3 separate regions of the Homo sapiens genome follow, and regions 1 and 2 are each linked to region 3. The links come from fine-mapping of genetic effects on gene expression. A gene starts in region 3. Each other region holds a variant in brackets. All regions are shown on one strand. Distances are between the middles of the regions.

The links. PIP is the estimated chance that this variant, and not a neighbour inherited with it, causes the effect.
Region 1: its variant is fine-mapped to the expression of FCER2 in whole blood (TOPMed, PIP above 0.99).
Region 2: its variant is fine-mapped to the expression of FCER2 in whole blood (INTERVAL, PIP 0.95).

What each region holds. Positions count from the first base shown.
Region 1 is chr19:7,747,789-7,755,966 of GRCh38, reverse strand. It overlaps the pseudogene RPL21P129. Among named protein-coding and RNA genes, the nearest start is that of CD209, 4.3 kb to the right of the region's middle. RefSeq lists a silencer at 6,790-7,084, an enhancer at 6,864-7,365, cis regulatory regions at 7,585, 8,120 and promoters at 6,801-8,178, 7,991-8,178, 7,181-8,178, 6,801-8,178, 8,113-8,178 and 5 more. The variant T/C (reference allele first, on the strand shown) is at 4,523.
Region 2 is chr19:7,735,765-7,743,942 of GRCh38, reverse strand. It overlaps CD209 (CD209 molecule), which reads left to right. Exons shown (of 7, transcript NM_021155.4): 7 at 703-3,950. The coding sequence ends at 904. It also overlaps the pseudogene LOC100129391. Among named protein-coding and RNA genes, the nearest start is that of CD209, 7.7 kb to the left of the region's middle. RefSeq lists an enhancer at 396-495. The variant C/T (reference allele first, on the strand shown) is at 4,672.
Region 3 is chr19:7,698,304-7,706,448 of GRCh38, reverse strand. FCER2 (Fc epsilon receptor II) reads left to right here and starts at 4,318. Exons shown (of 11, transcript NM_001220500.2): 1 at 4,318-4,434; 2 at 6,604-6,710; 3 at 7,595-7,708; 4 at 8,040-8,093. The coding sequence starts at 6,689. It overlaps LOC105372262 (a long non-coding RNA gene), which reads left to right. Exons shown (of 5, transcript XR_936296.2): 2 at 1-204; 3 at 513-632; 4 at 1,547-1,657; 5 at 3,328-3,369. RefSeq lists enhancers at 884-953, 4,322-4,431, 6,535-6,604.

The DNA of each region.
Region 1 (8,178 bases), 50 kb before region 3:
CTCTAAAAAAATTTTTGTAAAGCTAGCCAGGTATGATAGCATGTGTCTATAGTCCAAACTACTCAAGGAGCTGAGGCAGGAGGATTGCTTGAGCCCAGGGTTTTGAGGGTGCAATGAGCTGATTGTGTCTGGGAATAGCCACTGCACTCCAGCCTAGGCAACAGAGTGAGACCCCATCTCTTAAAAAAAAAAACACATATAGACTAAAAGTGAAAGGATGATAAAAGAAATTCTAACAAATGGAAACAAAAAGTGAGCAGGAGTAGCTACACTGATATCAGATAAAACAGACTTTAAGTCAAAGACAGTAAAAATAGGCAAAGAAGGTCATTATATAATGATAAAGGGATTGATTCAGCAAGAGGATATAACAATTTTAAATATATGTGTACCCAACACCAAAGCCCCAGATATATAAAGGAAATCTTATTAGATCTACAGGGAGAGATAGACTTCAATACAATAATAGTTTGGGGCTTCAACACCCCACTCTCAGCACGAGACAGATAATCTAGACAGAAAAATCAACAAAGAAACATCAGATTTAAACTACAATTTAGCCCAAATGGACCTAACAGATATTTGCAGAATATTTCATCCAACAGCTGCAGCACACACATTCTTCTCATCAGCACATGGAACATACTCCAGAATAGATCACATGTTGGGCCACAACACATTTTTTACAAAATCAGAATTATATCAAATATCTTCTCAGACCACAATGGAGTAAAACTACAAATTAATAACAAGAGGAACTCTGAAAACTGTACAAATACATGGAAATTAAACCATATGCTCCTGAACAACCACTGGGTCAATGAAGACCTTAAGAAAGAAATAAAAAAAATTCTTGAAACAAATCAAAATGGACACAGAGCATACCAAAATCTGTGGGATACAATAAAAGCAACACTAAAAGGAAAGTTTAAAGCAATAAATGCCTACATCAGGGCCGGGTGCGGTGGCTCATGCCAGTAATCCCAGCACCTTGGGAGGCCAAGGTGAGAGGCTTGCTTGAGCCCAGGAGTTCAAGACCAGCCTAGGCAACATAGTGAGATGCCGTCTTAAAAACAAAAAAACACACAAAATGCCTACATCAAAAAAGTAGAAAGATTTCAAATAAACAACCTAGGAATACACCTCAAGGAACTAGGAATGTAAAACCAAACCAAACCCAAAATTAGATGGAAGGAAATAACACAAACCAGAACAGAACTAAATGAAATAAAGACTAAAAACAAAAACAAAAACAAAAACAGAGGATCAGCAAAAGGAAATTTTTTTAAAAGATAATCAAAATTGATAAACCACTATCTAGACTAACCAAGAAAAAAAGAGATAAGGCCCAAATAAACAAAATCAGAACTGAAAAGGAGAGATTACGATTGAAACCACAGAAATACACAGAAAAAAAATCATCAGAGACTATTATGAACAACTATATGCTAACCAAATTAGAAGACCTAGAGGAAATGGATAAATTCCTGGACAACCTACCAAGATTGAAACAGGAAGAAATAGAAAACCTGAAACAGAACAATAATGAGTAATGAGATTGAATCAAAGTAAAATGCCTCCCAACAAAGAAATGCCCAGGGCTGGATGACTTCACTGCTAAATTCTACCAAACTTACAAAGAACTAACATAAATTCTCAAACTAATCCAAAAAATTGAAGAGGAAGGAATTCTTCCTAACTCATTCTACCAGGCCCACATTACGCCAAGACTAAAACTAGACAATTACACCATAAAACAGAAAACAGTCCTTGCTTTCAATTGTTTTGAGTATACACCCAGAAGTGGGATTGCTGGATTATATGTAATGAAATTTTTATTTCTATTTTTTAGGAACTGCCATACTGTTTTCTGTGGTGACCGCACCATTTTACATTCCCACCAACAATGCACAAGAGTTCCAGTTTCTCCACATCTTTGCCATTATTTGTTATGTTATTATATTATTATTATTATTATTGTTTTTGAGATGGAATCTCACTCTGTCGCCCAGGCTGGAGTGCAGTGGCATGATCTTGGCTCACTGCAAGCTCTGCCTCCTGGGTTCACACTATTCTCCTGCCTCAGCCTCCCGAGTAGCTGGGACTACAGGCACCCGCCACCACACCCGGCTAATTTTTTTGTATTTTTAGTAGAGACGGGGTTTCACCGTGTTAGCCAGGATGGTCTCGATCTCCTGACCTCATGATCTGCCCGCCTCGGCCCCCAGAGTGCTGGGATTACAGACGTGAGCCACTGTGCCCGGCCACGTTATTATTTTTTGTAGTAGTCATCCTAGTGGGTGTTAGGTGGTATCTCATTGTGGTTTTAATTTGCATTTCCTGAATGATTAGTGATGTCGAGCATCTTTTCACGTGCTCGTTGGCCACTTGTATATCTTCTTTGGAAAAATGTTTAGTCAAGTCCTTTGCCCATTTTTAATTGGGTTGTTTTTCCATTGTTGATCTGTACTTTTGCTCATCTTTAAACTAGGTTTGTTGTTTTCTTACTGTTGGGTTTTAGGAGTTCTTTACTTACTTTGAATATGAGTCTCTTTTTTCTTTTGAGATTGGGTCTTGCTCTGTTTCCCAGGCTGAAGCTCACTGGCACTATCATAGCTCACTGCAGCCTTGACCTCCTGAGCTTAAGCAATCTCCCACCTCAGCTGCCCAAGTAGCTGGGACTACAGGTGTGCACCACCACGCTTGGCTAAATTTTTAAATTATTTGTAGAGACAAGATCTCACGGTGCTGCCCAGGCTGGATGATTTCTTTATATATGTCTTGCAAATATTTTTGCAAGTTTGTGGATTTTCTTTTCATTTGTCTTGATTTCAATGGGAATGCTTCTAAAGTTTCTCCAGTAGAAATGGTGTTTGCTGTGGGTTTGATGGATACCACAACCATGTTAAGGATATTTCCTTCTACTCTTAGTTGATGAAGACTTAAAAATGTAAATCATGAGTCACTGTTGAGTTTTATTGAACCCTTTTATTTGATCTACTGTGATATGTAGGTTTTCTACTTTAAATTGTTTATTTGATTTATTATTATTATTATTATTTGAGATGGAGTCTCACTCTGTAGCCCAAATTGGAGTGCAATGGCACAATCTCGGCTCACTGCAACCTCTGCCTTTCGGGTTTAAGCGATTCTCCTGCCTCAGCCTCCCAAGTAGCTGGGATTATAGGCATGTGCCACCGTGTTGGCTAATTTTGTGTTTTTAGTAGAGATAGGGTTTCACCATGTTAGCTAGGCTGGTCTTGAACTCCTGACCTTAGGTGATCCATTCACCTCAGCCTCCTAAAGCGCTGGGATTACAGATGTGAGCCACAGTGCCCGGATGGTATGCTATTATTAATAGATTTTCTGATGCCATCCATGTGTTTGTCAAAAAAACTTTATTTGATCATAATGTTGTATAGGGAGAAACATGACAAACAGTACCTCAGCTAAGTTATCAAGCTTGGCTGATGATAAGTAATAAGTAATATCCATGATAAGTAATATCATATGATAAACAAAAACAAAAAAACTAAAACTGTAAACAAAACATACATTTCAAGATGAAATAAAATAAACGGCTGATGGAAAAATAAAATGACATTAGAGGAGGAAGGACCAAGAAAAGGGGTAATAAGAATGTAGTTGGGCTGGGCGCAGTGGCTCACGCCTGTAATCCCAGCACTTTGGGAGGCCGAGGCCGGTGGATCACCAGGTCAGGAGATCGAGACCATCCTGGCTAACACGGTGAAACCCCGTCTCTACTGAAAATACAAAAAATTAGCCAGGCGTGGTGGCAGGCGCCTGTAGTCCTAGTTACTGGGGAGGCTGAGGCAGGAGAATGGTGTGAACCCGGGAGGCGGAGCTTGCAGTGAGCCGAGATCGCGCCACTGCACTCCAGCCTGGGCGACAGAGCAAGACTCCGCCTCAAAAAAAGAAAAAAAAAAAAGAACGTAGTTGGTCAGATGTGCTACAGGGGACTTTGAATTGACTATCTAGCCAAAAGTCTTATTTCCTGGCTCACACAATACTGTGGAGGCGGGGGCAGAGGGGACACTCACCTGTCCCCAGGAGCCAAAATGGCACTGACTGGTCTCCAACTTAGGGCCTGGGTGAAGGTCTTCTCCACCAAGGCCAGGTGCCCAGGTTTCCCAGCTTGGGCCAGCTCAGCTGTCACAGGGGACCAGTAGCCTATTGGCCTGCTGGTCAGAGTGGCTGGTCCCACATCACATGGCACTACAGCCGAATGTTCATCTGCTCAGCTCCATTGCCTGCTAGGGAAGATGATGGTTCTTCAAAGAGTCCTTGGTTAGTGTTACAGCTCTGCAGCTTTGATTACCGTAGTGCTGATGGCTGTCTTGCTGTCTCTCGTCAACTGCTGCCTCTCCGTCTCACCAATCATCATCCTGCTGACCGCTGATCACCATCTGATATCGTTTGGGTGTGTCCCTACCCAAATCTCACCTTGAATCGTAGCTCCCATAATTCCCTCGTGTTGTGGGAGGAACCCAGTGGGAGATAA[T/C]TGAATCATGGGTGCAGTTTCCTCCACACTGTTTTCGTGGTAGTGAGTCAGTCTCATGAGACCCGATGGTTTTATAAGGGGAAACCCCTTTTGCTTGGCTGTCTCATTCGCTCTGGTCTGCTGCCATGTAAGACTTACCTTTTGCCTTCCACCTGATTGTGAGGCCTCCCTAGCCATGTGGAACCGCCCATTAAACCTCTTTTTCTTTCTTTCTTTCTTTTCTTTTCTTTTCTTTTTTTTTTTTTTTTCACAATCCAGAGGTCTTTTATTTTTTTAACACCTCTGATGCCATGAATTCATAGGGAAGAGTTTCCAGCAGCTCAGCCTCCTTCCCATTGGTTCTCACAAAGCATGCTTCTCTGGGTGGAGCAGGCTGGTGCTTCAGTTGAACCCAGGTACCTTTCTCTTTGGCTTCTTTCTGTTTCTGATTATTTTCCTTCACACATTTCAGGAAGCTATCTCAGCTCTTAGCATGCTTAATGCGCTCAATGCACACATTAATTCTCTCGGCATGAATCTTGCCCTTGTTTGTTTACAACAATGCCAACAGCATGCTGGGTAACATTGTAGACTCTTCCAGTTTTGCCACGGTAACCCTTGTGGTCCATTCCTTTTTGAACAGTACCCATTCCCTTGATGTCTACAATATCACCTTTCTTACAAATTCGCATATACGTGGCCAAAGGAACAACTCCATGCTTTCTAAAAGGCCTAGAGAACATATATTGGGTGCCTCTCCTCTTCCCCTTTGCGTTCATCATTTTGGCAAATTACTGGAAGATGGCAGTTACGGCCAAAAGGCACCTCTTTTTCTTACAAATTGCCCAGTTTCAGGTACGTCTTCATCAAGCAGCGTGAAAACAGACTAATATACCACCTCTCTGTCTTTCTTTCTTTGCCACCACTCCACCACTCTCTGATCACCACCTCTCTGTCTCACTGACCTATCACCGACGGGCGCCTCTTGCCACCTTACCAGTTGCCGTCTTGCTGTCTTGCCATCCCTTGCTGTTTCACCTCTCTGCCAATCACCAATTGCCACTGTCTCTGCTGTCTTACTAATTCTTCAGTGATCCCCACTGTCTCACTGTCTCACTGGCGATCACCATCGGCAGATCGGCAGTGCTGCACCAGTCACTGCCGCTTGCTCACTGTCTTTGTTCCTTCAAGGTCACCAAATGTTGCAGGACAGGTGAACCCCAAAATTGGGGCTTAGCTGGGGAGGGTTCTTGGCTTCGCTCTGGAAAGAATTCAAGGGTGAGCCAGTGATGTCAGACAGAGATTTTTTTTTTTTTTGAGACAGAGTTTCACTCTTGTTGCCCAGGCTGGAAGGCAATGGCACGATCTTAGCTCACCGCAACCTCTGCCTCCCAGGTTCAAGCGATTCTCCTGCCTCAGCCTCCTGAGTAGCTGGGATTATGGGCATCAGCCACCATGCCTGGCTAATTTTGTATTTTTAGTAGAGACAGGGTTTCTCCATGTTGGTCAGACTGGTCTTGAACTCCCAACCTCAGGTGATCTGCCTGCCTTGGCCTCCCAAAGTGCTGGGATTACAAGCGTGAGCCACCTTTTGTTTGTTTGTTTGTTTGTTTTTGACATGGAGTCTCACTCTGTCGCCCAGGCTGGAGTGCAGTATTGCAGTCTCGGCTCACTGCAACCTCTGCCTTCCAGGTTCAAGTGATTCTCCTGCCTCAGCCTCCCGAGTAGCTGGGATTACAGGCATCAGCCACCATGCCTGGCTAATTTTGTATTTTTAGTAGAGACAGGGTTTTACCATGTTGCTCAGGCTGGTCTCGAACTCCTGACCTCAGGTGATCTGCCCGCCTCAGCCTCCCAAAGTGCTGGGATTACAGGCGTGAGCCACCGGTTTTGTTTGTTTGTTTTTGAGATGGAGTCTCACTCTCTCGCCCAAGCTGGAGTGCATTGTCACAGTCTCAGCTCACTGCAACCTCTGCCTCCCAGGTTCAAGCAATTCTTCCGCCTCAGCCCCCTGAGTAGTTGGGACTACAGACACGTGCCATGCCTGGCTAATTTTTTTTGTATTTTTAAAAGAGATGGGGTTTCACCATGTAGCCAGGAGGGTCTCGAACTCCTGACCCTGTGATCCGCCCACCTCAGCCTCCCAAAGTGTTAGGATTACAGGCGTGAGCCACCATACCTGGCCTTAGACAGATATTTTTTATGTAATGATACTGCTCCTTGTGAAGCAGGGCTAACTCATAGGCAGTGCACCCAGAGTCAACAACATACAAGCTCTTGGCAGCTGTAGTTATACTCATGTCAACTCACTTTCAGTTATACGTCAGTTAAGGGGTGGGTCAATGCAAATTGAGGAGCAGGTTCTTTAGAAGTTTTAAGGAAAAGGGCGAAGATGTCCAGGTTGTTTCCATGGAAACAGGTGGGAACTTCTAGGTCATTGCCATGGCATCGGTAAACAGTCATGGCACTGGAGGGAGTATCTTATGCCCACGAGCAATGAGGCAGCCAGGGATTGCTTTTGTTGCCATCTGCTGGTTCCTGCTGGTTTCTTCACATCATCTCATCTGGACCAGATTCTGTATGGGTCTGCAGGGTTGTGGCCAGAAAACAAGTTCTTCCAGTTTCCTACCTCATTACCATGTGAAATGTTACCATTAGGAGAAACTGGGTTCACATTAGGGATCCCTAGGTGAGGGATTTACATATGGGAAATCTCTTTCCTACATTTGCAACTTTGCTATAAACCCAAAATTATTCTAAAATTAAAACATTTTAAAAAAGAATACAAAGTAAAGATCAGGTCGAAAACCACTATTTGATTATGATACATGTATGTATTTTCCATCTTTAAACTGAGATTTAACACACATGTGGTAAATGCACATCTCTATGATCAAAATATAGAACATTTCCAGCATACAGAAACCCCGTTGTCAATCTCCACCTGCTCCTTCCTGATAATTCCCATTCTGAGTCTCCTTCAAAGGTTAGTTCTGCCTGTTCTCAAAATTCACACAAAATCAAATCTTACAGTGTGTACTCACTCTGTCTGGGTCCTTTTACTGTTTTGTGAGATTTATCTATGTTATTAAATGTACTAGTACTTTGCTTTTTCATTGCTGTATAGTATTCCAATCTTTGAATATGCCATTATATTTTTTATCATTCACCTGCTGGTGGACACGGGGTTGTTCCAATTTCAGATCATTCTAAATAAAGCTGCTATGGATCTTTTCTTTCCTCTTTGATACTATTTCACTCTTTGGTTAACAGCATGCACTGTGGAGGCAGACTGGGTTCAAGTCTCAGCCCCACCATCTACCAGCTGTGTGACCTTGGGCCAGTTAGCTAAACTTGCAGTGCCTCCTCAGTTTCCTCATCTGTATAATGGAGGTCATATGATCTACTGAAGGGTAGGAACATTAAATGAATGAGTTTATAAAGCTGTTGGAAAAGTACCTGACTACCCTAGGCATTAAATAAACAAGCAATTATGATTCTGCCCCAACTCCCAAAGTCAGCAGGAATTCCCAAAAATGAGGACAGCAGCAGCTCAAAGCAGGAAAGCCAGGAGGTCACAGGGGACAGTGCTTCCAGGAACTGGGGGTGCTACCTGCCTACCCTTGCCCTAGTGGAGGGGGTGTAACACAGTAGCTTTCTCTTACAATTTATCAGAT
Region 2 (8,178 bases), 37 kb before region 3:
TGGCAGGTGCCTAGAATTCCACCAGCAGAGCTGCAGGAGGAGCCTGCCACCGGGGAGGTGTATTAAAATATAATGTATTAATAGGAAGTCTGAGGTCCAGTAAGGCCACCAGCTCAGGAGACACCTGCCATTGTGAATAGCTTCTCATATACACAGATCCCTAGAGAGAGGACACATCACAGCTGGGGGCCACCTGGGGAAGCACCAGGGTCTGTTATGAGTCAGAGTGGTGGGGAGGGGGGACTGTGGGCCAGAGCCTTTATTATGGTTTCTGTGGAAAGGAAAGGTCAAGGCCAGGTGAACAGGCTTAGGATTGGGAAGTGTGAAGCATTTTTTGGGCTCTGGGGCACAGGGGCTGCCCCTCGCTGTCTGACACCTGGCCTTGGGGTGATTAGTACAGGATAGTGGCTTGGAGTACAAGAGCCCAGTAAGGCAGGTCGCTGGAGGTGTGGACTCCAGACTGGTTGGCTTGTATTTGAAAATCACACACTCAATAGGTGGAGTCCACCCAAGGACAGGTTGTGAGAAGAGAGGCAGGAACTCAAGGCATCGTGAGTCAGGCATATTATCAGGTATGCAGAGGGATTCAAGTCCAGCATACACACGCAGGGCAGATGTTAAGGCATCAAGATGACAGAAGGTAGAAACACAGCTCATGTAGCTGGCGGGGACAGAGGCTCACATTCCGCATGGGCTTTGCAGCTTCAAGCAGTATTGGAACAGAGGAGAGCCCAACAACGTTGGGGAGGAAGACTGCGCGGAATTTAGTGGCAATGGCTGGAACGACGACAAATGTAATCTTGCCAAATTCTGGATCTGCAAAAAGTCCGCAGCCTCCTGCTCCAGGGATGAAGAACAGTTTCTTTCTCCAGCCCCTGCCACCCCAAACCCCCCTCCTGCGTAGCAGAACTTCACCCCCTTTTAAGCTACAGTTCCTTCTCTCCATCCTTCGACCTTCACAAAATCTCTGGGACTGTTCTTTGTCAGATTCTTCCTCCTTTAGAAGGCTGGGTCCCATTCTGTCCTTCTTGTCATGCCTCCAATTTCCCCTGGTGTAGAGCTTGTTTTTCTGGCCCATCCTTGGAGCTTTATGAGTGAGCTGGTGTGGGATGCCTTTGGGGGTGGACTTGTGTTCCAAGAATCCACTCTCTCTTCCTTTTGGAGATTAGGATATTTGGGTTGCCATGTGTAGCTGCTATGTCCCCTGGGGCGTTATCTTATACATGCAAACCTACCATCTGTTCAACTTCCACCTACCACCTCCTGCACCCCTTTGATCGGGGACTTACTGGTTGCAAGAGCTCATTTTGCAGGCTGGAAGCACCAGGGAATTAATTCCCCCAGTCAACCAATGGCACCCAGAGAGGGCATGGAGGCTCCACGCAACCCCTTCCACCCCCACATCTTCCTTTGTCTTATACATGGCTTCCATTTGGCTGTTTCTAAGTTGTATTCTTTATTTTATTATTATTATTACTATTTTTCGAGATGGAGTTTCACTCTTGTCGCTCAGGCTGGAGTGCCATGGCGCGATCTTGGCTCACTGCAACCTCTGCCTCCCGGGTTCAAGTGATTCTCCTGCCTCAGCCTCACGAGTAGCTGGAATTACAGGCAGGCGCCACCAGACCCGGCTAATTTTTTGTATTTTTAGTACAGATGGGGTTTCTCCGTGTTGGTCAGGCTGGTCTTGAACTCCCGACCTCAGATGATCTGCCCGCCTCGGCCTCCCAAAATTGCTGGGATTACAGGTGTGAGCCACCGCGCCTGGCCTATTATTTTTTGTAAGAATAAAACAGGTTTATTGGGATTTGGGACTCTGAACAGTTCTGTCTCTACTACCTGATCTCCTCCTACCACGACTTTGGGATCTAGAGGAGCTTTGGCTCCGGCTGTGACGGCTCCGGCCGTTCTCACTGCGGCTGCACCGGCCCCCGCTGCGGTCACTATTTCTTCCTCTGCTAGGTGAATTGTGCCTCTCCTGGCTCTTTGACATGTGCTAGTGAGATTTCTTCCTTTTCCTTTCGGATTCCCCATTTCTTTTGTAGGAATGGTCTGGACTAGGGTTCTCCTTCCCCGCAGCCTGTAGTATTCATCGTGGTGGCCCACCCTCTCTCTCCCCTTGGAGCTCTTGCCAAAGGAGGAGACAAGCAGAGGTCTCTATTGGATTTCTCAACACCTGAAGAAAGTTGCAGTGTTTTCCTCTTGGACATTGTTGTATTTCAAATAAACCACAAATCATCATTTTCCACCGAGCCACTGGGCAGAATTCACACTGAAGCTGTCGTCCTGCGTACATACCATCGTCCGTTAAACAGAGAAAGAGCTGCTTGGCATTCTTCTTCCGACTGGTACTGAACATATATACTTGCCCCTCAGGTGAGGTTCCAAGTTGCAACTGACCTTGAACTGAATCACTCTCCCCACGTTATTTTTTAATTACTATTTTTTTTTAAAGATGGGGTCTTGCTCTGTCGCCAGGCTGGAGTGCAGTGGCGCGATCTAGGCTCACTGCAACTTCCGCCTCCCGGGTTCAAGCGATTCTCCTGCCTCAGCCTCCCGAGTAGCTGGGACTCCACTAAAAGTACAAAAATTAGCTGGGCGTGCACCACTGCGCCCAGCTAATTCTTGTATTTTTGGTAGAGACGGGGTTTCAACATGTTGACCAGGATGGTCTCGATCTCTTGACCTCGTGATTCGCCCGCCGCGTCCTCCCAAAGTGCTGGGATTACAGGCCTGAGCCACCGCGCCCAGTCTCTCCCCACGTTCTTGAACTCGGGCAGCACATCCTCACAGAAATCTAGGAACTGTTGGTAGGTTTCTTCCTCGCTGTACTCCAGGCTTGCTTCGGAGTCATAGTCATCCCTCCTGCACTGCTCCTTTCCAAACACTGTAAACATGCTTTTAATAAGAAGGGTAGGACTGGATGTTGGGAAATCATGTGAACATCTATCTCCAAATCTGCAAGCTCCTGTTTTACTGTAGAAGGGACAATTAACTCCATCCTTCTCCATGACTCTGAAATCCAAGGGGGGGTTCCGGGTTTTGCCATGTGGCGCCATTTTCCAACTCATTTTCAGCCTGATCCAGCATCTTCTGGACAGCTTCCGGTTTTTGTTTCTTCTGTCGTTTCTGTTCCTCCTCCTCTCTCTCTTTCCTCTGCTGTTCTTCCCATTGTTCCTTTAACTTTCGCTCTTGTTCTTGCCGTTTTCTAGCCACCTCTTCCTTTTCCTTCTTTATTCTGAATTCTTCTTGTGCCTTCTGCTCTCTCAGCAACCACTCCTCATGTAATCTTTGCCTCTCTCTTCCCCATAGCTTTTCTAGTTGTTGTTTTTCAATAAAAGTGTCCTCCTCTTTCTGTGAGAGTCCTGAGTCCCTCAGTGGAGCAAGTTCCTGCTGGCGTTTCTTTCGTTTCTCCTTCTTCAGGGCGGCCCTGTACTTTTTGTGGCTTGGTTTCTCTGGAAATGTCACCTTTTCGGGCGCAGCCATCTTGCCGGCACCGCCCCGCCCCTCTAGTTGTATCCTTTATAATAAACTGGTAAACATTGTAACCGCAGATTCAGCCCAATCTGGTTCAACTTTGTGTAATAAAATGGCGAGTTGTTTTTCAGTTGTCGTGGACCCCCAGGTTGCAAGTTACATACCCTGGGCATGTCCAGATGAACGAAGCGTGCAAATCCACGTGGAACCTAAGTGCTCAGACCGAGGAACAGGGACTGAGTTAAGAAGTGGACACCACGTGGCATGATCCTTGATCCAATCAGATTGAGCCCTGGCGTGATCCAGTCAGATCAAGCCTCCTGAATCCCCTCATTACAAGATCCAATCATATCATGCCTCACTACCCTCTGTATATAAAATCTGCCCCAGCCTCCAACTTGGAGAGACAGATTTGGGCCAGACTCCTGTGTCCTTGCTTGGCTGCCTTGCAATAAATTTTTCTCTCTACAAAACCCCAGTGCTTCAGTGTTTGGTTTTCCACTGTGAGCCAGGGAACTGACCCAATTTAGTTCGGCAACAACATAAGCAAAATGTTTTCCCGAGTTCTCTAAATCATTCTAGGAAATTACTGAACTTGAGATGGACTTATGGGAAGCCACAATTTTTTGCCAGCCTGGCAGAAGTGTGGGTAGACAGTGCAAAGACTGTCTTTGCACCTGGCATCTGAAGCAGGGTCAGTCTTTTGGGACCTAGCCCTTTAATTTGTGGAATGTGGTGCTAACTCCAGGAAGCTAGTGTTAGAATTAGAGAATTTCTTTGGTGTAAATAAGACACCACAAACATCACTTCCTTTCTACTGATGTTGACCCCAAAGATGCACCTTCATAAACAGCTTGCAAGCTAAATTCCGTCTTACTTAAGAGTTGACCTTCAACAGGCAGAGGAACTGTGAGGCTTGTTCTATGTCGTCTCCCAGAGGCTCCCAGGGGGATTGGACCCAATTGCCCTTTTCAGCTCATTGGTGCCTTTGTATTGGGTTCCTTCCTTTCCCTACCTGCTCCTCTTCATTCTTCCCATCCCCTGCTGATGCTTCTTGGAATCTCCTCCCAGATAAGCTACTTATATCCAAATCCTTGTCTCAAGCTCTTTAGTAGGGGAAACCCAAGCCAAGCTTATATTTTGATAACTACCAGGCATGGCTCCTTTTATGTGGGAGACAAGGTCTTGCTCTGT[C/T]ACCCAGGCTGAAGTGCAGTGGTGCAATCATGGCTCACTGCAGCCTTGACCTCATGGGCTCCAGTGATCCTCCCACCTCAGCCTCCTGAGTAGCTGGGACCACACGTGTGCATCACCATATCTAGCTACTTTTAAAAAATTTTTTGTAGAGATGGGGTCTCACTGTGTTGCCCATGCTGTTCTTGAACTCCCGGGCTCAACTCATCCTCCTGCCTCAGCCTCCCAAAGTGCTGAGTTTACAGGCCTGGGCCGCTGTGGCCTGCCTGGTCATGGCTCTTCTCTATCAAAATGTTCTCAGGTATTCTTGTGCAATTTTTGGATGATTTTTGAGTCTACTCTGGCTTTAAAGGTTTTCATTTACTTGTGGAATAAGTCACGTGTGCACACAGAACCAAAACGTATCAATCTCTACAGTGAAAACTAAAGCTCATTCCGTCCCCGTTTTCCCATCTCAAGAGGTTACTGTCCCCACTTGTAGCTTTGCTATTTATTCCCAACTAAAGAGTATAACCTCTTTATTATATTCCAAATAATGAGCTTGTCAAGTTTGTTTTAAAATCTGTTTGGAAATCCTTCAACAGAATTTTGAAAATCTATCTGTGGAGTAGGTGGAGCCCAAAGGATTTTTATTTTTATTTTTATTTTTTGAGACAGAGTCTCACTCTGTCACCCAGGCTGGAGCGCAGTGGTGCAATCTCAGCTCCCTGCAGCCTCTGCCTCCTGGGTTCAAGCAGTTCTCCTGCCTCAGCCTCCTGAGTAGCTGGGATCACAGGCACCCGCCACCATGCTCGGCAATTTTTTTGTATTTTTCGTAGAGACAAGGTTTCACCACATTCGCTAGGCTGGTCTCGAACTCCTGACTTCAGGTGATCCACCCGCCTTCGCCTCCCAAAGTGCTAGGATTACAGGTGTGAGTCACCGTGCCCAGCCTATGAAATTTTCTTTTCTTTTACAAAGTAGATTCACATTGTTGTGTAACCATCACCACCATTCATCTCGCAAACTTTTTCATCTTCCCAAGTGAAACTCTGTCCCCAGGAAACACTGACTCCCCATTCCCCGTTCCCCAGCCCCTGGCACCCACCATTCTACTTTCTGTTTCTATGAATCTGATGACTCTAGGGACCCCGCATGAATGGAATCATACAGCCTTTGTCTTATTATGACTGGCTTATTTCACTTAGCATATTTTCCTCAAGGTTCATCATGTTGTAGCATGTGTCAGAATGTCCTCCCTTTTTTTTTTTGAGATGAAGTCTGACTCTGTCGCCCAGGCTGGAGTGCAGTGGGGCGATCTCCGCTCACTGCAAGCTCCGCCTCCCAGGTTCACGCCATTCTCCTGCCTCAGCCTCCCGAGTAGCTGGGACTACAGGCACCCACCACCACGCCCGGCTACTTTTTTTTTTTTTTTGTATTTTTAGCAGAGACAGGGTTTCACCATGTTAGTCAGGATGGTCTTGATCTCCTGACCTCTTGATCCACCCACCTCAGCCTCCCAAAGTGCTGGGATTACAGGCGTGAGCCACTGCGCCCAACCAAGTTCTTTAATTAGTCCAGAAGTCCCTAGAGCTTCCTAGATACAAGATCGCATCTTCCAAATATTGTCAGCTTTGACTCATCCTTTCCAATATTTACAGGTCTTAATTCTTTATATTTCCTTATTGCATCGACAAAATAGCAAGAGGGGCATCTTTATCGTGTTCTTGATTTTACTAAATATGCTTCTCACATTTCACTATTGAGTAAGGCGTTTCGGCAGGCTCACAGAAATTACCCCTTATCCAGCCAGAATCAGTGAGCTAGGGCTGCCACGACAAAGTAGCACAAAGCGGGGACTTTGAACAACAGAAATTTATTCTCTCACAGTCCTGAAGGCCGGAAGTCTGAACTCAAGGTGTCAGCAGGGCTGTGTTCACTCTGAATTGCGTAGGGGAGAAACCTTCCCTGCGTTTCTCTAGATTCTGGTGGTTGCCGACAACCTTTGGCGTTCCTTGGCTTGTACACCCATTGCTGGAATCTCTGCTTCTGTTATCATGATTTTCTCCCTTCCTACCTCTTCACGTCATCTTCCCTCTGTGTCTCTCTTCTCTCATTTTGCTTTGTTTTGCTTTTAAGAGATAGGGGCTGGGTGAGGCAGCTCACACCTATAATTCCAGCACATTGGGAGGCAGAGGTAGGAGGATCTATTTGAGGCCAGGAGTTCGAGACCAGCCTAGGCAGCAAAGTGAGATCAAATCTTTACAAAAAAAAAAAAAAAAAAAAAAAAATAGAAAAACTGGCTGGGTGCTGTGGCTCACATCTGTAATCCCAGCACTTTGGGAGGTCGAGGCGGGGGGATCACCTGAGATGAGGAGTTCAAGACCAGCCTGGCCAACATGGTGAAACCCCATCTGTACTAAATTCAAAAAATCAGCCAGGAGTGGTGGCATGCGCCTGTAACCCCAGCTACTTGGGAGGCCGAGGCAGGAGAATTGCTTGAACTCAGGAGGCGGAGGTTGCAGTGAGCCAAGATTGCACCATTGCACTCCAGCCTGGGCAACAAGAACAAAACTCTGTCAAAAAAAAAAAAGAAAGAGAGAGAGAGAGAAGAAAGGAAGGAAGGAAGGAAGAATAAAAAGAAAGAAGAGAGAGAGAGAAAGAAAGAAAGAAGGAAAGAAGAGAGAAAGAAGAGAGAAAGAAGGGAAAGAAAGAAAGAGAGAAATAAAGAAAAAGAAAGGAAGGAAGGAAGAAAAAGAAAGAAAAGAAAGAAAGAAAGAAAGAAAAAGGAAGGAGGAAAGAAAGAAAGAAAAAGGAAGGAAGGAAGGAAGGAAGGAAGGAAGGAAGGAAAGAAAGAGTTGGGCATGGTGGTGCTCCCCTGCAGTTGCAGCTACCTGGAAGGCTCAGGCAAGAGGATCACTTGTGCTCTGGAGGTCAAGGCTGCAGTGAGCTGTGATTCTGCCACTGGGCAAACCGAGTGAGACCCTGTCTCAAAAAAAAAAAAAAGGGGATCTTGCTCTGTTGCCCAGGCTGGAGTGTAGTGACATGAGATTGCCCTGCCTCAGCCTCCTGAGTAGCTGGGACTACAAACATGTGCCACCACACACAGCTAAATTTTTCTGTAGAGGTGGGGTCTTCTTGTGTTGTCCAGGTTGGTCTCCAACTCCTGGCCTCAAGCACTTCTTCAGCCTAGTGCTGGGATTACAGGTGTAAGCCACCACAGTTAGCCCCAGCATTGCTTTTGGGGGACACTGTTCAATCCCCTACACCGTGGACATTTTGAATTTCTTCTGGATCTTACCAAAAATGGTTCTCATGTTTCACTATTAAGGAAGACATTTCTGTAAGATCCTGGAAATTGCCACTTCTCAAATTAAGGAAGCTTTATCCTGTTCTGTGTTTACTAAGCATTTATTTTTTGTGCTTATCTTCATTTTAAATGCAGAATGAATGTTGAATAGACATATCTCATAATTGTAATGTGGAGAGGACAAAAACAAGTTCCGGAAGGATATAGACCATGTGATGACA
Region 3 (8,145 bases):
GCTTCTAAACATCCAACAATGCACAGGACAGCATCCCAGCGAGGAATCATCAGTCCCAAAGTCAACAGTGCAGGGTGGGAGAGACCCAGCTTTGAACACACCTCCTCCTGGAAGCCCCCCTGGATTTGACACACCTACTGCCCTTCCTCCCCACCCCTGCACCCTTTCCTTCTCCCCTTCGTAACCCCAGGAGAGGTTAAACAGGTAGGAAAGCCCAGGGCTGTGTCGGGATGGGGTTAGAGTCAGGGTCGCCAGGCTCCATCTCGTTGGGACACAGCGCCAGGCCCTGTCCCAGGTGTGGGGGTTCTGTGATTAGAGCCGCGGACGTGCCTCCGTCCTGTGCAGAGCAGAGGTTAGGGCTGGGATCAGAGCATCGTGGGGTGAGGGGATCAAGTTGTAGTTGAGCTGGGGTTACGGTCAGGGCCGGGGCTGGGATGAGAGCTCAGCTGGAGATGGTTGAGGGTTGTTGTTGCTGGACACCCTAAACTCCTTCCTGTTGAATTCTGACCTAGGTCAAACGAGGAGCGAGACGCGGCCTCCCCCAACATGCAGAGGATCCCAAATCTGAAAGAAGAACCGACACCCACAGATCTGGGGCCCACATCCGCACAATTTTCTGTTTTTCCCCCGAAGTGAGCAAGAGGCGTATTAATACCGCAGAGGGGAAGCGGGTGGGGCAGTCCCGTGACTGGGTCCTTGGGGCCCCAAAGCATCCTAGTGTTTGAGCTGAGTCTTGGCAGGAACCCAGCAGGCAGGGGGCTTTCACCCCTGGGAAGGACATGATGGGGCCGGTGGGGTTGGGCTGGGGCACCTGGGCTTGTAGAACTCAGAAACACCAAATTCCAGCTGGGCACAGTGACTCATGCCTGTAATCCCAGCACTTTGGGAGGCTGAGGCAGGAGGATCACTTGAGCCCAGGAGTTTGAGACCAGCCTGGGCAACATAGTGAGACCCCATCGCTACCAAAAATTTAAAAAATTAACCAGGCGTGGTGGTGCGTGCCTGTGGTCCCAGCTACTCAGGAGGAGAAAGTAGGAGGATCTCTTGAACCTCAGGAGGTTGAGGCTGCAGTGAGCCGAGATCGCACCACTGCACTCCAGCCTGGGAGACAGAGCGAGACCCTGTCTCTAAAAAAAAATATGGACAATTTTGTTGTATAGTTTAATTTAGTAGCAATGGTTGCTGGGCACAGGAATTTGTTTGTTTGTTTGTTTTTTGGGATCGCCCAGGCTGGAGTGCAATGGCGCAATCTCAGCTCACTGCAACTTCCGCCTCCCAGGTTCAAGCAATTCTCCTGCCTCAGCCTCCCGAGTAGCTGGGATTACAGGCACCTGGAACCACTTCTGGCTAATTTTTGCACTTTTCGGTAGAGACGGGGTTTCACTGTGTTGGCCAGGCTGGTCTCAAACTCCTGACCTCAGGTGATCTACTCGCCTCAGCCTCCCAAAGTGTTGGGATGACAGGTATGAGCCACCACGCCCAGCCGGACACAGTTCTTAGTGACTTGTGTGCATATTAACACATCTAATTTTCACCACCACCCTAGGAATTAGATGCTTTGGTGATCAATGCTGCCTTATGTGAAGCACAGAGAGGTTAGGTGACTTGCCAAAGGTCACACAGCACTTCAATGGAAGAACCAGGAATTTGAACACAGGTAGTGTGGGTCAGGCATCTGCAGCCCTAGCCACTATGCCACCTAGACTTCTATATACTAAGACCCCTTGGCACTTTGCCCACCCTCCTCATCCTTCCCAAAATGTGTCCCCTGATCCTTAACACCCTCCCCACTCTCAACTGGGGAACTCCAAATCCCCACTCCTGGGTGGGCTACCTCCCATGTCTCTCACTCCAGAAGACACCCCCCTGTGCCCCTACAACCCACCTCCCAACCAGGAGGGGGCTGGGCTGGGCCATCCACTAGGGCTGGACGTTCCCACTGTGTCAGGGAGGGGCCTGGCTGAAATGTCCCCTGGACCCTGCACTCCAGAACAGCTGGGACCATGCTGCCTTGTCTGTCACCCTGGACCGAGTGACCCTTGGTGCATGCCTGTTGAGTGAATGACTGACTCTGGTGGTCTGAGGCTGTTCATTTTGGGTCCCAAAATGTCCCCTCCACCTTGATCTGGGGTAATGGCCGAGGACCAAGATGGTAAAGAAGTGAGGGAGGGTCCGGGTGCGGTGGCTCATGCCTGTAATCCCAACACTTCGGGAAGCCGACGTGGGTGGATCACTTGAGACCAGGAGTTCAAGACCAGCCTGGTCAACTTGGTGAAACCCCATCTCTACTACAAATACAAAAAATTAGCCAGGTGTAGTGGCGCGTGCCTGTAATCCCAGGTACTTGGGAGGCTGAGGCAGGAGAATCACTTGAATCCGGGGAGGCAGAGGTTATGGGGAGCTGAGATCATGCCACTGTACTCCAGCCTGGATGACACAGCAAGACTCTGTCTCAAAAAAAGAAAAAAAATCAAAAAGGAAGGGAAAGAGTTGGCCGCTGAGCATTGGAGAGGTGGCTGGGGGCTGCTGAGTGGACATAGGGACAGCATTTGAGGCCAAGCCAGGGTGGGGTCACTGGGGGATTAGTCTTGAGGGCAGGTCGGGTTGGGGATCCTAAGGGGGGGTCTGCCGTGGTGGCCAGGTGGGAGTGAGGACCCTGGAGGGTCTGTTTTGGGGGGCAAGACAGGAGGTAGAGCCCCAGGGAAGGCTGTCATGGGGGCAGGATGAGAGTGGGGAGGCCATGGAGGAGGCAGTCCCAGGGACAAGGCAAACCAGGCAGGGGGAACCCTAAGAGGGGGATGTCACCTGGTCCAGGGGGAAGAGGGAGCAGCTGTGGGGATGGGGAGAAGCAGGTTATTTTTTTGAGACGAGCCAGGCGCGGGTGCTGGGTGAGCGGTGGGGTGGAAGATCGGGAAGTGCTTGGACAAGGCCTGGACCTGGGCCGGGGTGTCTGGGTGGATGGACGGACTGTCCCACCAATGGGGACACACGAGGAGAAGGAGGAGGAAGCTTGGGAATAAGTCCAGCTGGGCCATGTTGTGAGGACATGGGGATGAAGTCTTAGTTCCAGGATGGGGCTGGGATGGAGTTTGGTGTTTCTTTTCTGTTTTTCTTTCTTTTTTCTTTTCTTTTTTTTTTTTGTGAGACAGAGTTTAGCTTTTGTTGCCCAGGCTGGAATGCAATGGCGCGATCTCGGCTCACCGCAACCTCTGCCTCCCGGATTCAAGCGATTCTCCTGCCTCAGCCTCCCGAGTAGCTAGGATTACAGGTGCCCACCACCATGCCCAGCTAATTTTTTTTTTTTTTTTTTTTTTTTTGTATTTTCAGTAGATACAGGGTTTCACCATGTTGGCCTTGAACTCCTGACCTCAGATGATCCACCTGCCTCGGCCTCCCAAAGTGCTGGGATTACAGGCGTGAGCCACTGTGCCCGGTCTCTCTCTCTCTCTTTCTCTCTCTCTTTCTTTCTTTCATCTCACTGTGTTGCCCAGGCTGATCTTGAACTCCTGGGCTCAAGTGATCCACTCACCTCTGCCTCCCCAGTAGCTGGGATCACAGGCATGCACCACCATGCCCTGCTAGTTTTTATAGTTTTTGTAGAGACAACGGCTTGCTATGTTGTCCAGGCTGGTCTTGAACTCCCAGGCTTAAGTGATCCTCCCACCTCAGCCTCCCAAAGTGCTGGGATTACAGGCGTGAGCCACCGTGCCCAGCCAAAACTGTCCATATTTGACCTGAATATTATCTCACGTATCTTTCTTTCCCCCCGCTTCCCTCCTTCCCTCCTACTCCTCCTTCTCCCTCTCCTTCCTTCTGTCTTTTTTTTCCCCTTCCTCTGCCTCTCTCTCCTCTTCCCTTTTTTCTTGCTGGGACTCAAACCTGGGACATTTGACCTGGGAGCCTATTTGCTCAATCATCAAGAGACATAATCTCATGGTGGGGTGTCTGCTGGTAAGTGCCGGGTGGCAGGATCCCAACTCCAGGCCGTCCTTCTAACCCAAGAGGCCCTGCCTCTGCCTAGAGCCTTCCGTGGCTCCCCAGGGCCCTCTGTGATCGGCCATAGTGGTATGATTCAGTGTGCAGTAACAGTGGTTCACATCTTGACGCTACCACTCACCTCCTTCAGCCCTGTGGGAACTTGCTGCTTAACATCTCTAGTTCTCACCCAATTCTCTTACCTGAGAAATGGAGATAATAATAACACGGACTTCACCCGGGTGTGGGGAGCACCAGGAGAGGCCATGCGTGTAATGTTATCCGGGTGGCAAGCCCATATTTAGGTCTATGAAAATAGAAGCTGTCAGTGGCTCTACTTTCAGAAGAAAGTGTCTCTCTTCCTGCTTAAACCTCTGTCTCTGACGGTCCCTGCCAATCGCTCTGGTCGACCCCAACACACTAGGAGGACAGACACAGGCTCCAAACTCCACTAAGTGAGTACGTATCTGGTGTGTTGGGGGTTGGCCATGGGAAGTGGAGATCAAAGCGCCCTTGGAAGAAACGACCTTGGGCTGAGCCTCAAGGGATGACCAGCAGGAGGTCACAACCAGAGAAGGGAGGTGGTGGGTGGTGAGGGGGCGGGGGTGGGGGCCGCAGTGTGGACAGAATCTCGAGGCATTCGAGTCCCTGATTTGGGGAAGTGAAAGCAGGCCATCTGGTCTGAGATGAGCTTGGTGAGTGCGCTGGGCCGATCATAGAGGGCCCTGGGGAGCCATGGAAGACTCTAGGCAGAGGCAGGACCTCTTGGGTTAGAAGGACGGCCTGGAGTTGGGATCCTGCCACCCAGCACTTACCAGTAGACACCCCACCATGAGATTATGTCTCCAGATGATTGAGCAAATGGGCTCCCAGCTCAAGGGTCCCGGGTTTGAGTTCCAGTCCCACCACTGCGTGATGGGGACAAATGACTTACCCTCTTGGAACCTCAGTTCCACTGAGAGAGGCCCCACAGAATGAGGACAGTCCCCCAGCATCCTGCCAGTAGGTTTACTGAGCACCTACTGTGTGCTGGTGCTTTGAATACTCCCAATTTACAGATGAGCAAACTGAGCTGCTCATCCAGGAAGAAGCCAGGACTCGGACTCAGGTCTGTCCAGCTGCCTCCCTGGACAGTTCCAGTCCCAGGATGGTCTCTGGGTTCCTCTCACAATGTCAAAAGGGCCAGCTTGAGCTGCCGCTAATCAGAGCCTGGCCGCGCCACACCCCACCTCCCTGAGGCTCCGAGAGAAGGGACTTACCTATAGTCAAGCAGCGAAAGAAGGTAGCCCGTGACCTCCAGGCCTGAAGGACCCCAAGTCCCATGCTCCTCAGCACATAGTAGATGCTTTAAAGTCAGAGGACTTGGTCGGGCGCAGTGGCTCACGCCTGTAATCCTAGCACTTTGGGAGGCTGAGGAGGGCAGATCACCTGTGGTCAGGAGTTCGAGACCAGCCTGATCAATATGGTGAAACCCTGTCTCTACTAAAATACAAAAATTAGCCAGGTGTGGTGGTGGGTGCCTGTAGTCCCAGCTACTTGGGAGGCTAAGACAGGAGAATCGCTTGAACCCGGGAGGTGGAGGTTGCAGTGAGCCAAGATGGTGCCATTGCACTCTAGCCTGGGTGACAGAGCGAGACTCCATCTCAAAAAATAAAAAAATAGGCCATGCACAGTGGCTCACGCCTGTAATCCCAGCACTTTGGGAGGCCGAGGCGGGCGGATCATGAGGTCAGGAGTTTGAGACTAGCCTGGCCAACATAGTGAAAACCCGTCTCTACTAAAAATACAAAAATTATCTGGTCATGGTGGCACGTGCCTATAGTCCCAGCTACTCGGGAGGCTGAGGCGGGAGAATCGCTTGAACCCAGGAGGTGGAGGTGGCAGTGAGCCGAGATCGTGCCCCTGCACTCCAGCCTGGGCAACAGAGCGAGACTCCATTTCAATAAATAAATAAATAAATAAATAAAGTCAGAGCACTTTACAGATGCCCTGGGGACATTGGCAGAGGAGAAGGCTGAGGCCTGGGTTATGGGCTCTTAGCATTTCTCAGTGGGACGTGGCACAGAGTAGATGTTTCATAAATGTTTAGAATCCGAAGACCCACTGTGCGCAGCCCGGCACCAAAAACCTCAGGTATGCTGTGATCTCATTGGATCCTATCTTGGCCTCATGAGTTGGGTGCTGTCATCAGCCCATTTTACAGAGGGGAAAACTGAGGCTGAGAATGGTTGAATCCTTGGCTGAGGTCACACAGGCAAGGCAATTATAATAAACGCTGGTGATATTTTTAGCACAGATCACCAACCAACAGTATAGGTGTTCTTGGTATCATCATTTTACGAATGAGGAAAGAAGTTTCCAGGTTAATTAAGCCATTTGTCAAGATCTCATGGGTGCACCTGCTGTGTAGCTCAAGTGTGATGGGCTCTGGAGTGCCCCACTTCTGATCTCAGGCTGCTATCTCTCCACACCAGCTGTGTCTCCCTGCTAACCACGCTAGTGAGTCCAGATTGTAGACTAAACAAAATCAGCAAATGGCCCCTGAGTGCCACCAAGTCCCAGATGCTATCCTGTGCTGGTAACTAGGATTTGATGGCTCACCCTAACCATCATTAAATCCCAAATCAGCCAGAGCTGTGATTGTGCCCGCTGAGTGGACTGCGTTGTCAGGGAGTGAGTGCTCCATCATCGGGAGAATCCAAGCAGGACCGCCATGGAGGAAGGTCAATATTCAGGTAGGAGGACTCTCTGGTTCTAACGTTGGCAGAAGCAATGACCCTTAGCTACTGCCTTTCACCCAGAAGAGAAGCGGGGCTCCCCAGTCCCTCTCTGGGAAAGAGGGTGAATTTCTAAGAAAGGGACTGGTGTGAGTAAGGAGGTGAGGCCGGACTGACTTTCCTGGCACAGAGCCAGGAAGGAGTGGCAAATTGAGGGCCCCTCCTTTTTCTGATTCAACACCCTCCTGACAAAAAAAGAAAAAGAAAAAAAAAAAAAAACGGCTTCAGCTAGGGAGCGGGGAGCCCAATAGAGTCAGAGGCCAAATAGAACAGGAACTTGGAACAAGCAGAATTTAGCATAATGAATCCTCCAAGCCAGGGTGAGTGCAGAGGGCCAGGGGCTTGAGGTGGGACATCCAGATAGACCTTTGGGTGGGGTCTGGGAGAGGTTTGGAGGTCTGGATGTTGGATGACACCTGGGAAAGTGGCTGGGGAGTGGCTCCGATGTTGGGGAAGAACTGGGACTCAGTGTCCTGGGTTTAGGGAAGGGACTCCAGGTTGGGGACAGGTGCAGAGGTGTAAGGGTGGGCGTTGGGGCTCAGAGGGGAAGGAAAAAGCAGGACCTAGTCTTCTGGAAGTGAAGCTGGGGGCCTGGCATTGGTTGTTGGGGCTGAGGGAGTCTTAGCTCTTAGTCCCAGATCTGTCTCTGTGGTCAGTGACCCAGCCCTGAGTCAGGTAAGGAAGCTGTGCAAATGGAGCTGGGGGTCCACTGAGACCCTTTGCTTCAGTGTGGGCTCTGGACAAGCTCCCAGGCTGTCGGGGGCTCTGGGTAATGGAGAGACGGACAGGGCCAGCATCCAGCTTCACCCTGCACCCATAGTCAGTCCCTCCACCCCCGGCAGAGATCGAGGAGCTTCCCAGGAGGCGGTGTTGCAGGCGTGGGACTCAGATCGTGCTGCTGGGGCTGGTGACCGCCGCTCTGTGGGCTGGGCTGCTGACTCTGCTTCTCCTGTGGCGTGAGGACACCCCCAGCTCCATGTGGTCCCCCCAACTCATGGGGCCCTTCTGTGTTCCCTCCTTCACCCCCATCTCAGAGCTGGGGGAGCCCAACGCATCCTCTCAAAACCCAATTTTCCCATCCTGCCTCCCATCTTGCCACTGCCAGCCCTTTCCCATCCCCCACCCTCCAGAGCCCCTCACCCCACACCCAGCATCCCTGTCCTCCACACTTTCAGCACCTCCATGGCTTATACCCAAGACCTCCATCCCCAGCTGGGAGGTGGGGTGCAGGCAGGTGGGGGCACTGACAATCCCCCCTCTCCACTCCTCTTCTCTCCCCCTCCCCAGACTGGGACACCACACAGAGTCTAAAACAGCTGGAAGAGAGGGCTGCCCGGAACGGTATGAAGGGGTCAAGGTGGAGGGGGTGGGGGTGAGGGTTAGGATGCCCAGC